Linked DNA regions of Homo sapiens. The protein of the gene in region 2 interacts with the protein of the main gene of each other region in a pairwise test. Each region holds a gene or a part of one and is shown on either strand. Other genes may lie near its edges.

Evidence for each region.
Region 1: the proteins of DRAP1 (region 2) and NFYB interact in binary tests that used the Homo sapiens proteins (3 or more experiments, as listed by UniProt).

The regions. Positions count from the first base shown.
Region 1 is NC_000012.12:104,135,211-104,142,987, forward strand, and holds the start of NFYB (nuclear transcription factor Y subunit beta), read right to left. Parts: upstream 3,001-7,777; 5' UTR 2,931-3,000; exon of another isoform or gene 1,999-2,930; intron 323-1,998; 5' UTR 244-322; coding exon 238-243; exon of another isoform or gene 234-237; intron 1-233. UniProt on the Homo sapiens protein: Component of the sequence-specific heterotrimeric transcription factor (NF-Y) which specifically recognizes a 5'-CCAAT-3' box motif found in the promoters of its target genes.
Region 2 is NC_000011.10:65,915,573-65,922,066, reverse strand, and holds DRAP1 (dr1-associated corepressor), read right to left. Parts: upstream 2,642-6,494; 5' UTR 2,566-2,641; coding exon 2,524-2,565; intron 2,288-2,523; coding exon 2,215-2,287; intron 2,120-2,214; coding exon 2,026-2,119; intron 1,725-2,025; coding exon 1,605-1,724; intron 1,499-1,604; coding exon 1,405-1,498; intron 1,184-1,404; coding exon 1,095-1,183; intron 738-1,094; coding exon 632-737; 3' UTR 504-631; downstream 1-503. Other genes in the region: UPF0696 protein C11orf68, read left to right, coding at 3,036-3,157, 3,849-4,608. UniProt on the Homo sapiens protein: The association of the DR1/DRAP1 heterodimer with TBP results in a functional repression of both activated and basal transcription of class II genes.

The DNA of each region.
Region 1 (7,777 bases), on a different chromosome or scaffold from region 2:
CTTTACAGCTGGGACAGGCTACCCTGTAGCCTCAACAGCACTTAGGGACCCATGGGAAATAATATATGCAAGAAGCTGAAAATAAGGAAGCAACAGGAATGAGCAGAGGTACTGTCTGTCTAGACTTGAAATGCATTCATTCTACCAGGCACCTCCAGTATAAATTGGTTACAATTTTATTTCCAGCCAATTACTATTCAAATCTAATTAACAACCAAAATGGTAAAATATACTTACTGTCATGAAATACTGTCAGAACCGTGTTGTCAGTGGTGCTGAAGAACACCTATCTAAAAAGGTGTCTAATCTTTGTGATTTCAACCTAAAAGATAAACATCTATTAGGACCTAACATCTATCAATAGTAAAAATACATCAAATGTATCACTTATAGGCTTTTTTTCTCATAAAATTAAAGAGGGCTTGTATAATTTTGACTACTATTCTTAATCAATGGAGTACATGGTATAAAATAGTATAAAAAGGCACCCAATAAATGTTTGTTGACTTGAAAGATTTATTTTGGAGAACTTAAAAACAAGTTAATTCCATGGGGAAAGGAGAAAATGGATTTTCCAACATAACCCTGAATTTAGCCATATTCATCATAAACATTCATTACAATACACCAAAAAGGGACCAAATTATATAATATGCAAGAGACCAAAAATTATACATCTAAATTACTTAAAACATTAACACTCAAGATGCAAACACACCCCTTATCATCTTAATTTTTTGGTGATGGTTTTCTTAAATGTTTCAGAGTAACATTTAGACATTCTATAGCTCAAGAGGAGGAAAAAATTATCTGAGAATATAATGCTTTTCAATTAAGAATCTCAGATTATACTGTAATGAAGATACATTCTGCACTGAGAAGATATCAAAAAAGCAACACAATCAAGACCCTTATTTATAATTTTGAAGCACCACCATTTTTGACTAAAATTGCATCGAAATAGCACTTCAGTCTCACTGTAAGGCATAAATAGCTGAACAAATTAGTACCAATTGCTGTGTTACAAGTTTCATTTCTCATTTGCTCCATTCTTTCTCAAAGGAAACAATTAAATGGGGGAGGGGTAGGATGCCAAAACAAAAACACATCCTTTCAGTGTTAATTTTAAAGGGAGAAGATATACTGATACGCATCCAAGCATGAAATCTAGCAAATAGCAGAAAAAATTGTAGCCACTGAATTGAAAGTTTTTAATGCCACTAAAAAGGTCCAGGTAGCAAAAACTGCTTGACGTTTGCTATAATATTAAAAGTAATTTATAATTTCTTTTCAAATATTAATAGTATCCTCTAACCCCAAAACTGCTCAGAAAAGTCCTTCCTTGTAACGAGAAATGTTATTTTTTAAAGAGTGTCTTTGAAAAAATAAGCCCTCAGAACACTTAAAACATGGGAGCTATATTTATGTATTTTGCTTGGAATGGGAGAGGGGGGTGTGGGCAGGGAGTCATACCACACCACACTCACTCACCCAAATAGTTGATTCAGTATATATTTAGACTCAGTACATTAAAGAAAAACACTGTCACCTCATATGGTGTATATTTTCTTAAGGGCAGGTTGATATATGTAAAAGCTCAAGGGAATGCATACATCTGTTTAATGTTTTAAGAAATGCAAATTTGTATCCAAGAAAAGCAGTAGTCCCTTCCTCCACCCTCCATTCTTTGGCATCAACAACCAGAGTTTTGCATCAATATACAGTAATCCTTAAATTAAGATACAAGAGCAATGCAGGGAAGGAATAATTTGCCTTTTAAGGAATTTTGGTTAAACTTTCAATACTTTACAAATAAACCCCCCACTGATTAGTGCCACTGATATTGATCCGTTTGCTTTCATCACTTTATGTTGCTGATTAGTTTCCATACTAAGAGAGATGAAACCACCCCAGTGATTTGTAGCACGAACCACGCAACTATGGGGTCCATGCGGGTTAGTGGGATGCCATTTTTTTAAAGGTCGCAGGCTACCTAACCTTGTTTAAATTATCCTGTTAGAGTGCTTTGGGCGAGATTACGATTTGTGGGTGCTCTGTAATTCTTTGTTCTCTAAGACTACCGTTCTTTAAGGCCCTGCATATCCTCCCGCCTCCCACCACTAATGATTAAAACCTTAGTCCAATCCGAAGGGCTTCCTTCCCACCTTCGGGGCAAGTACAGGGACCGCAAACCGCCAGATGGCTGCATTCTTTACGCGCAAACCAGGCTGCGGGGAAGCTAAAGCCATGCCTTCCTCCCCACGCAGGTGCCTGGGTGGCCCCGGCCCCACGGCCTGGTCCCGGCGACCTGTCAGCCCTGCGAGTGCCAGGAGGCCGCCCCCAGAGCGCATCCCCTGACTCGCCCGGCCGCCCCGGCCCCGCGCCCAACGCCTGCCTCCCACCCGCCGCGCGGCCCCCGGGATGTGCGGGCAGACAAAGCGCCGGGCCCCGCCACAGCCCCGCGGGCGGGAGGAGGGCGCCCCCGGGGACTCGCGCCGCCGCCGGGGCTACGGGGCCAGGGCCCGGGCCGCGTCTCCCGCCCCTCGGCCGGCTCCCCGCACAAAATGGAGCCGGCCCGGGACGCCGTCGAGAGCGGGGCCCCGACGCAGCCCCGCGGCCCCTCCTCGGCCCCGGGCCCGGAGCTCAACGGCGGCGAGGGTGAGGTGGCCTGGCCCGCGTCCCGCCGCTCCTCAGCCCGGCGCACAAAGAGCCGCGCCGCGGCCCCGCGCCCGCTCCCCGGCCCGGCCCGCTGCGGGAGCGGCCTCGCAGGCGCGGGGCCCGGCCTCGGCCCGCGCGGGAGGGCGGGAGGCTAGTGCCCCCGGCCGCGGCGGCGTTGGCGGCGGGGACGGCGCCGGGAGGAGACGGACATTTCATTCGAGCTAAAGTGGAGTCGGTTTAGGAGCGATCATTGGCCGAAGCGAGACACAAACCTCCAATGCAGCCCTGGTTGGCTCCCGTCTCCAATCGGCTGTTTGGTTGGACAGAAAATGGCTGCGAAGGAACCAGTCCCAGCGCGGAGCTCCGCTTCCAGGACTCGGCCTCCCCTCCCTCCGCCGCGGGCCGCTTCCCTCGGCGCGACACCCTCCCTCCGCGCCGCCCGCGCGCCCGCCCGCCGCGGCCCCGCCCCGCCCCGCCCCGCCCCCGGCCCCGCCCCGCCCCCGGCCCAGTCCCGCGTTCCTGTGAGGCCTCCGCGCCGCTCCGGATGCCGCTCCTCTAGGCGCGAGGTCTTCCAGGGCCCTGCCCGGGCGCGCCGTTCGGGTCTAGGCGGGCCTCCTTCCCGGTGCTGACCCGGGCCTGTGCGAAGCGGGATCTCTCGGGCGTCCCTCTCTTTGTCACCCCTTCCCCCGCCACGTGGAGGTGCCTCAGCCGCCTGAGCTCAGCCTGCCTGCGCCTGGATTTTTAAGAAGGGGAAACCAAGGACAGAAGCCGCCCCCTAGGACGACGCGCCCGAGCCACCGGGAGGGTCTGAACGGCGGGGGCCTCCTGGAGCGCCTTCAGCGCCTCGTGTTTTCTTTCCTTGGGTCCCTGTTAGCGTCGCCGCATGCACAGCGCTCCCTGTCATTTGGTCCCTGAGCTTGGGTGTTTTTCACATTTCATCTAAAGATGCAGACCCCTGCTAAGTCTAGCCAGCCTTCACCCTGAATCTTGAACTTAAGATGCTGCATTTTCCACCCACCCCCACCCCTCTAGTAGCTGCAGATTGACAAGCGGCTTTTCCCAACCAGATGACATTTTGGCTGCAAGAATCCGTGGCCCGTTCTTGCCTCTGTGCAGCCAAGCTCCTTCGCTGTCTTTCTCAAACTGCAGTCCTGAGTTCAGCTTCGCTTAGCAGTGACCATCCCAGAGGTGGGTAATCCAACACTGGATCCACTCACTGCAACCGGAGCTGGGGATGGCATGCCCTCTGCTTCCACTAACCGAGTGGCCTGCACCACATTAAACTCTCCAGCTTTGATTATGTAAAAATACAGAGATCTTTTATTTATAGAGTTCCTACTGTTTCTCAGAGTATTTAAACATTTCTGCGGCAAGTATGGAAGAAAAGACAAATGAAAGCCCCAAATTGTGACAAGAGGAGTAAGTAGCAATGCCACTGTCATCAGACAACCTGACTTGAATTCCAACTCCCCTTCTTACAGGCTTGTGATCTTGGCCAAATGTCTGCTTCTCAGGGTTGTTTGGGATAATGTATACATAGAAAGCCCTTTAAAAAAAAAAAGTTATCCCAGCACTTTGGGAGGCCGAAGCAGGCCGATCACCTGAGGTCAGGAGTTCGAGACCAGCCTGACCAACATGGCGAAACCCCGTCTCTACTAAAAATACAAAAATTAGCCGGGCGTGGTGGTGGGCGCCTGTAATCCCAACTACTCAGGAGGCTGAGGCAGGAGAATCGCTTGAACCCGGGAGGCAGAGGTTGCAGTGAGCCGAGATCACACCATTGCACTCCAGCCTAGGCGACAGAGCAAGACTCCATCTCAAAAAAAAAAAAAAAAAAAGTTATCCTAAGATCTTTATATAGCATGAATTTCTTCAATCTCCATCAAACATTTAAAAGGTGTTATTTGCTTAGAAAAAAAAAAGGAAAAATTGGCCTGAGTTTAATTTCTCCCTTTCTCTATGCTTACCCATAAAGTGGAGATTAAGGAGTGAAATGATGTGTTCAAAGGTTCAAAGGCAGGAAATATAAAGTAATAGAATTGGGAGAAGGGGCTGGGCATGGTGGCTCACGCCTGTAATCCCAGCACTTTGGGAAGCCAAGGCAGGCCGATCACCTGAGGTCAGGAATTCGAGACCAGCCTGACCAACATGGAGAAACCCCGTCTGTACTAAAAAATACAAAATTAGCCGGGCGTGGTGGCGCATGCCTGTAATCCCAGCTACTCGAGAGGCTGAGACAGGAGAATCACTTGAACCCAGGAGGCGGAGGTTGCGGTGAGCTGAGATCGCGCCATTGCACTCCAGCCTGGGCGACAAGAATGAAACTCTGTCTCAAAAAAGGAAAAAAAAAAAAAAAAAAGAATTGGGAGAAAGATGACTAATCCTTCTCCCAATTCTGGATGGTGAACCAAAAGATGCGAAGATGACTACTTTTCTGAGTTAATAGTTTATCATTTCAGTACTGTGGATCTAAACTATGTGCTTAATTCAAATTCCACTAAAAGGTAATATCAGCTCCTACATTCTGCAGGCATTGTACTAGGAGCCCAAGGGCTACAAAGGTGAATGAATCACTCTCCTTACCCTGAGGAGCCAGAACTCTAGGAGAAATGGAACCCGGTCCACATCCCCTCTGCAGTTGGATCCTAGGTCATCCTGCCTTAACAACCAACCTGTGTTCTCTGTTTCTTCTGTATCTATTTCAGGAAGCCCCCAATAAATGTTAACCACTTTTCTGATGACTTGGTGAAAGAGGAAGGCCAAGATCATAATTTAGTCTTGGAAAAAACACTGCAGCTAACCTAGTCTTTGCATTCAAAGTCAGAGACAGGTAATTGAGTGTCTTTATTTCGAGTCTGTACACCACAGCTGCCAGTTAGTTCATATCGCCATTTCTCTAGGCGTCATAATTAAGCAAACAATGAAACAGAATCCCTGGCCCCATGAAGACTTCACAGTTTTTACTTCATCACTTCAATGAGGTCTCGTAAAATTCCCATGAGGACAGGGTCTAGTAGAATATTGTCTCCACTTCCACCTTCCTGATTCTTCTCTTGCTCCACTCTTCTCAATCCATTCTATGCACTGAGGCCTAGAAGGATCTGGCTTCAGCTTCCCTCTCCCACCCGGCTTGTGGCTCTTCCTCAACCCTGACCTCACCACCTTCTAGACCCACTGGCCTATGCATTGCTCCTCACACACGCACCAGCCTTAAGATCCTCACTGGCTTCTTTTCATCACTGAGGTCTTGCCCCTTCAATGAGGGACTTCCCTGATCCCTTCTTCTTAAGTAGCCCCGCCCAGTTACTCTCTATCCTGTCATCCAGCTATATTATTCTATGTAAAAGTAAATATGATATTTGCTCCAATACCCTTAGCCTAACTGGATTATCTTGTTTATTTGTTGGCTATAAGTACATATATCTAAAATGGAAACAGGCCAGGCTCAGTGGCTTATGCCTGTAATCCAAGCATTTTGGGAGGCTGAGGAGGGTGGACTGCTTGAGCTCAGGAGTTTGAGACCCGCCTGGCCAACATGGTGAAACCCTGTCTCTACAAAAAGTACAAAAATTATCTGGGCATGGTGCTGCATGCTGGTAGTCCCAGCTACTCAGGAGGCTGAGATGGGAGAATCACTTGAACCCGGGAAGTGGACGCTGCAGTGAGCTGAGATTGCATCACTGCACTCCAGCCTGAGTGACAGAGCAAGACTCTGTCTCAAAAAAAAAAAAGGGAGAAAACACTTCTCATTGCCCATACTACTACCACCATGGTTCAAGTCACATCTCCTGAAAGGATTTGGATGTTCTAGCCAAATCTCATGTTGAAATGTAATCCCCGGTGTTGGAGGTGTGGCCTGGTGGGAGATAATTGGATCATGGGGGTAGCTTTCTCATGAATGGTTGAGCATCATCCCCTGGATGCTGTCCTCGAGATACTGAGTGAGTTCTCTTGGGATGTGGTGGTTTAAAAGTGTGTAGCACCTCCCCCTCTCCCTCTTGCTCCTGATTTTGCCTTGTGAAGTTCCTGCTCCCATTCTGCCTTCCACCATGATTGGAAGCTTCCTGAGGCCTCCCCAGAAGCAGATGCCAGCCTTATGGTTCCTATACAGCCTGGAGAACCGTGAGCCAATTAAACCTCTTTTTGTATAAATTACATAGTCTCAGGTATTTCTTTACAGGAATGCAACAACAACCTAATACATCTCTCATCAGGGTGACTGCAGTGACTTGTCTCCCCTCTTCCACTCTGGTACACAGCAGCCAAGATTTCAGATCCTCTGAAAATATAAGTCAAATCCTGTCACTCCACTGCTCAAAAATCCCCTATTAACTCCTCATTTCTCTCAAAGTAAAAGACAAAGACTTTCCAGTGGCCTTGTAAGACAGAGTGGCAAGTTCCTTCATTCCAAATTGAGCAACAAAAAGATACTGATTGTTCTTTGGTCATAGTGACAAGAAACAACCAGAATCTGTTTTAATCAATCAATAACAATCTCCTGATCAGTGACTTGCTTCTGAAAATTAGCCAATCAGCAACAGCCACACTCTAGTAATCCTTCTTCCACATCTAAAGTTCAACTCATCTCTAAACAGTCCAGCTTCTAAGAGTTCCCCAACCTCCGAACCCCATGCTTCCCAAAACACTGTATAAGATTCACAGATTCCTTTGTTCAGAGACACTGTCTTACAAGTACTGCTGTCCTCTGGTTAGCAAGAAATATGTTCAGCACTTAATTGTTGCAGACGTGAATGGTGGCCTCTTCACTGGGCAACAACCTATGGGATCTTTGATCTATTCCCTTTCCGCTCCCCCTCTACCCTCATCTCCTCCTACCTTTTCCTTTGCTAATTGCACTCCTTGCAGTCCTTATTTCTGCCAGGAATGCTCCTGCCTCAGGGGCTCTGCACTGGCTGTTCCATCTGCCTAGTACATTCTCCCTCAGATAGCCACATAGCTCACTCCCTCACCTCCTTCCATGTCTTAATGGGGCCAGCCCTGATCACTTATCTAAAAATTGCAATTCCAACTCCCTACCCCCACTCAGCTATAACCCTCTAACATATTATATAGTTTCCTTATTTGTTATGTTTATGATTTATTGTCTGTCTCTTCCCAC
Region 2 (6,494 bases):
GCTCTCCCAACTCCCTTCTGTCCGCAGCTGTGGTGCACTCAGCAGACCCAGGGCCTCCAGCCTCCCCGGATGACCCCTCTCTCCCCTCGCTGCCACCTCACCTGCCACTGACGCGGCCCCAGCTCCCAGTTTCTTTTTTTTTTTTTTTTGACATGGAGTCTCACTCTGCTGCCCAGGTTGGAGTGCAGTGGCGTGATCTCAGCTCACTGCCACCTCCACCTCCCAGGTTCAAGCGATTCTCCTGCCTCAGCCTCCCTAGTAGCTGGGATTACAGGCATGCACCACCACACCCAGCTAATTTTTGTATTTTTAGTAGAGACGGGGTTTCACCATGTTGGCCAGGCTGGTCTTGAACTCTTGACCTCAGGTGATCTGCCCGCCTCAGCCTCCCAAAGTGTTGGGATTACAGGCGTGAGCCACCGCACCCGGCCCCAGCTCCCAGTTTCATGTGGGGAAGGCAGGTGGGTGGATGGGATGGCAACCATGACGTCCTGCGCAGAGCCTGGAACAGACACTGAGATTCCCTTTTATTTTTTTTTTTAATAAATTTAAGAACAGCTCTACCTTCTCTCCTCCCCCCAGAGCAACTAAAACCAACTAAAAGGGGCTATGGTCTGGGGGGCAGAAGGCGCTAGGAGTCGTAATCTTCTTCGTCCTCTTCATCAGGTGCTGAGGGGCCCGGGGGCGCTGGGGGCAAAGGCAGAGTAGAGGCGAAGGGCAGGAAGGGTGTCGGGGGGCTGCAGGGCAGAAGGCAGGAGAGAGTCAGGCCTGAGCCCCACCGTGCCCTCCACAGGGGCAGCTGCCAAGACCCTCCCTCCCCCATCTGACCCTCCCACCACCACCCTCCAGATCCATGCGGCCAAGGCCCAGGGCAGCTCACGCAGGGCAGGCCCAGGCCCCACCCACGGGCCCTGGCAGGGTGGAGCAGGATCTTTCGGGAGAACAGTCTCCTGCCTTCAAGCCCTCCTCAGTTATTCTCCTTCCACCCCACAAATCTGCCACAATCAACAAGACCAAGGGGCCAGGGAGAACAAGAGGGGTAAGTTGGCTCTGGGGAGTCTGCCAGCACCCTCCCATGCCTCTGGGCTGCTCACCTCTGAAAGTGGGCAGAGGGGTGGCTGGCCTGGGGTGGGGGTTGTGATGTCTCCTCTTCCCCATCAGTATCTGTGTCCTCAGATTCATCCTGTGAGCACCGCAGAGGTCAGAGTTGACAAGAAAAGACACGAACCCATCACTGGGAGTGGCAGGGACAGCAGTAGACCCTCATAGCCCCAATTTACAAATAAACCAGTGAGCAAACAGGTTGCAGAAAAGGATGAGAGCTGGCCTCCTGCCAGTTCAGCCTGGGGCGAGGCTGCCTGTCCCATCACCAAGGGCAGGGCGAAGGGCTGGGGCCTCACTCACCTCCTGCTCCGAGTCTGTCCCGGACAGCTTCTTGTCCTTGCTTTTCGTTCCCATCCCACCGTTCTTCCGGCCGCCGCTGCCTGGCTTCCGGCCCCTTTGGGAAGGTACAGTCCATCTGCCCGGAGTGCTCCCTACTCCTTGGCCACCCCCAAGCCCTGTGGCCTTGGCCTTCCCCACTGTATGCCAGGCCCTGGCCCCACCTGCGGGCGCCCTTGTCCCCATCCATGTGGTTGTCTTCCCCGTCCCCCTGCATGTCGGGAACAGATGCCACCAGGTCCTTCAAGAAGTCAAACTGCTGCTCCAGCTCGATGCACTGCTTCCTGGAAGAGGTGAGGAGGGGCTGGCACTCAAGAGGGGCCCAGACACCCAAACCCGCAGTGGGTGGCAGCAAGGGGCCCCAGATGTCAGGCTGGAGCCCGGGCCGATCTCCGCTCCCGGGCCTGCCCTGCTTTACTCAGGTGGCTCCCTCTGCCTGGAAGCCCAGCCTCTCCTCTGCCAGTCTGTGGCCTTGCTGGTGTCCCGGCTGCCGCCCACCTCCCTCGCCACCCAGGCTCTGCCTTCCTCAGTGTGTGAACTCCCCGCGCCAAACCCGCCGGCCCCTCCCGGCTCCTCGCCGCTCACAGGTGGGATGTGGTCATGGTCTTCGCGTTCCGCGACTGGGTCACCTGGCAGGCCTTCTTCAACAGCGACTCTAGGAAGAGCTCGAGCGCCCGGGCTGAGGAGCGTCAAGGAGAACTCCGGGGCAGGAGAGGGCGACCCGCTGCCTCCCTCCCCCACGCCCCTCGACCCGGTCCGCCCCCGGCAGGATACAGATGATGACAGGCACCGCCGCCGCCACCTTCCCAATCTCTTCGTCCGTCTGCATGATCTTCTTGATCCGCGCCTGCGGGTGGGGGAGCAGAGTTCAGACCCCGTCGCCACCGTCCCCTAAGGGGGTGCTGGGGGAGGAAGGGGCATCCCCGGAGAAAGGGGGCGGGGGACACGGACGCGGGGAGGGCATGGAGGGGGCGGGGCGTCCAGGCCCCCGAACACCGCGGCGCGCCCGCCTGCCCAGCGGGAACTGGGCCCAAGCCACCCGGGAGCCGGGCCCACTCCTGCCGGGCTCTGCCACGTGCTCACCGGCGGGAACCGCGCGTTGTACTTCTTCTTCTTGCTCGGCATCTCGGGGCCTCTCTCGCCGCGTCGGGTCCAGCGCCGCCGCCCGCAGCCTCCCGGCTCCCGGGCCTGCTCGCCGCCCGCCCGTCGCGGTTCCCCTGGGTCCTGGTGCCGCCCGCTCCGCCCCCGCCGTTTCCCGCGGAGTCCTAGCGCCGCCGGTTAAGACGCCGCTCGCAGGGCCCTAGTGCCCTCCTCTTGAAGCCTCCTGGCCGGTGCGCGTCCCTCCCCAGTCTGGACCGCCGCTCCCGCCCGCCCCCAAGGCCAGAAGAGCGAACGTTGGCCCCGCCCCCCGCGGCCCGCCCCTCCCGGGGTTCCCGCGATGGCCCCGCCCCCGAGTCAGCACCTCCCCGTCGGCCCCGCCCCTTCCCCTGCCGGCCCCGCCCCACAGCGCGGCCGCTGCGGCCGCTGAGGCCCGCGGCTCCGCCCTGTGGCTGCGCCTGTCTATAAAGTTGTTGTTGAGGTGGCGCGGCGCTAAGATGGCGGCGGCGGCGGCGGCGGCCGTGGCGGGGGTGGGGCGCGGTGGCGGTGGCGCGGAGCCACGGCAGGAGCGGAGCCGGGCCCGGGGCTGGGCCGGCGTCGAACGCAGCGAAGGCCGGAGGTGACTGCGGGCGGCGGGAGGGGCAGGGCAGGGCCGGGGCGGGAGCACAGCTCGGGCCCGTGGGCGTTAATGGCGGCGGGCGCGGCACGGCCGGAGCCTGGCTCTCCTGCAGGCTCTAACAAGCCCTGGTTCGAGTCTGGGAACCGCCCCATTGGCCTCGGAACGGCCTGTAACCTCTCTGGACTTCAGCGTCCTCGTCTGTAAGTGGGCCCGATAACGCCTGCCTGGGAGGCCTGGCCTTACAGAGCCGGCCTCGGGAGCTGCGCGAACGTGCGCTTCTTTGCGTTCCTCTATTAAATGCCAGCGCACCGGATACCTGCCAGGAAAAGGGGGCCTTGGCAGGGCCGGGAGGTGTAGCTGGGGCTGGTTGCTCCCACGCCTGGATTCACCCTTCGGCCCTGCCACGCACTGCAGGTGTGACCTTGGGCAAGTCCTTTTTCTCAGCCTCAGTTTCCTTTTCTGTAAGTCAAGGAGAATAGTAATAACTGCAGCAACCCTTCTGGAGCGCTGACTCCTCAGGCATCTAATTTTCATAGCAGATCTACGGGACAGGAACAGTTGTTATCCCATTGTAAAGATGAGGCAACTGAGGCGCATCGACAGTAACTCTTACTCAAGGCCACAGTTTAATCCAGTGCCTGGCATCTGTAGTTATTGTCTCAGACCCTGCCCTGACTCGGTTCCCTCACAGCAGGATGGAACCAGGTGAGGAGCTGGAAGAGGAGGGCTCTCCAGGTGGCCGTGAGGATGGCTTCACCGCCGAGCACCTGGCTGCAGAGGCCATGGCAGCTGACATGGACCCCTGGCTAGTGTTTGATGCCCGCACAACGCCTGCCACTGAGCTGGATGCCTGGCTGGCCAAGTACCCACCATCCCAAGTTACCCGCTATGGGGACCCCGGTTCACCCAACTCAGAGCCTGTGGGCTGGATTGCAGTGTATGGGCAGGGCTACAGCCCCAACTCCGGGGACGTGCAGGGCCTGCAGGCAGCCTGGGAAGCTCTGCAGACCAGTGGGCGGCCCATCACACCGGGTACCCTGCGCCAGCTCGCCATCACCCACCACGTGCTCTCGGGCAAGTGGCTTATGCATCTGGCACCGGGCTTCAAGCTGGACCACGCCTGGGCTGGCATTGCCCGGGCCGTGGTTGAAGGCCAGCTTCAGGTGGCCAAGGTGAGCCCACGTGCCAAGGAGGGTGGGCGCCAGGTCATCTGTGTTTACACGGACGACTTCACGGACCGCTTGGGTGTACTGGAGGCGGATTCAGCCATCCGTGCAGCGGGCATTAAGTGCCTGCTCACCTACAAGCCTGATGTCTACACCTACCTGGGCATCTACCGGGCCAATCGCTGGCACCTCTGCCCCACTCTCTATGAGAGCCGTTTCCAGCTTGGGGGTAGTGCCCGTGGCTCCCGAGTGCTTGACCGTGCCAACAACGTGGAACTGACCTAGGGGGGCCAAATTGGGGAGACTGCCCACTCCCCCCTCCATGCTGGGGTTGGATCCTCCTGTCTTCCTCCTTGTCCTATGAAGGCCACACCCCCCAGCTCTGGGGACTCCTAGGTCACTTGGGAACTACCTGCATCTTCAGTCCCCTTGAACTTCTGCCCTCTGTTCAGGGCTGACACAAGCCCCACAGGCTGGGGGGCTCCGGTTCCCTGAGGGATGAGCCTTCAGCCTCCCTTTGTAATGCTGCTCCTCTCCACTGCCCAGCACCATGAGTTGGGTGCAGACACCTAGAAGGAGAGACTTCTTGGAACGCTCATCCCCCGCTATACCTCCCCTTCCTCCTGCATCTCCCCTTCTTTCCTTCCCCCTCAGGAGAGAGAAAACTTAGTGCTTCCAGCCCTTCTTGGAGCCTTCATGGTCCAGGGGTAGGGGCCCCACTGGCCTGAGCATGCCATTTTGAGGGGAGGGTAGTTGTGCCTACTTATCCCCTGGCAGAGGGGATGCCAGGACCATGGACATGAGGCTTGCCCATCCCTGCCAACTTACACAGCCTGTACCACTGTCCCCCCTTCCTTGGCTACTTTGACATGTGCCTGCTCCTGGCATTTCAATAAAACCCGGCTTGGGTCTGTGTCTTGAGTGTTTTTTAAAATACTGTCTTGGTGGTTACCTGCTTTCGTTGCTAGGGAGGGGCAGGGCCAGGAGAGACTACCCCCTTGACCCGGCCAGGCCCCCATAGCTGCCCCTAGCAATAAGTTGTGCCTCACTGCTGAGGTTAGGCACTGTCTCTAAGAACCTCTGCAAAACCAGCCCCACTTCCCCTCCATCCGTAATCAGTTTCTCAGAGATTTCCCATAATTCCAGGGGTTGACCCCTCCAGGAACGTCTAAGGGGCCACTGCTAGCCCTCAGGGTGCATTTGTGCATATTAGAGAAAGGTACCAAGTCCAAGCAGTCCTAGGCCGGGGTACGCGGTTTGGGGAGCAGAGGATGGGATGGGCTGGATTTCAGCACCTTAGGCTAGACATCCTTGTGCAGTGAACAACCTGCACAACCCTAGGTAGTCTCTCTGGAAGCCCTGCCATTCATACTCTCCTCTCCTACCACCCTGACCATCATAGGGCCCACTAGACAGTTTGCAAAGCGCTTTCATATGCATTAAATTTAATTCTCCCAACCCCTTTGGGAGATGTTGGCCCCATTCTGTGGTCAAGGAAATTGAAGCCAAGAGGGGAAAGGAGTTTTCTCAGTGTCATGCGATGAGGTGGGCAGAGCTAGGACTTGCATCCCAGTCCCTTCCTCGGGCAATGAGGTCCCTGAGCCCACTGAGGAAAACAGGGAGCTTTTCATAACTCACAAAGCATGTTCACTTACGTGATCTCACTGGGCCGCCCCACTCTGCTGGGACTTGCTGTAGCCTTGGAGCCTGGCTCCTGCACCCCGCCACCTCTCCAGCCCCGTGCCTGGCCCTGGCCTTGATTGGGGGCCAGGGTGTCTGGCAGGGAGCCCCTTGGGACACAGCTCTCGTGCCGTGCCGGGACTGACTCAGCCTCCAGCAGTCTCACCGAATCGGAATTTAGAGCAGGGGAGCGGAGATGCCACCGGGCTGACTGGGTGGAAGTGGCTGAGTCATGAGATGCTGGCTCAGTGCTCTCTCCAGCTTCCTCCCCACCCTGAGCTTCCCCAGGGCTGAGTCCCCCTCTGCCCAGCCTTGGGAAGTCCCCAGAGCTGGGTGGTCTCCGAGTTGGAGCCTGGTGCTCTGCCTCCCTCGGGCTGCCAGGGCCTTGCACTCCACCAAAGTGGGCCAAGGTACCTCATGGGTCCCACAGAGATGCCCAAGTGGGGTCAACAGCACTGGCTTCTTCCATAGCTGAGTGTGTCACACACACA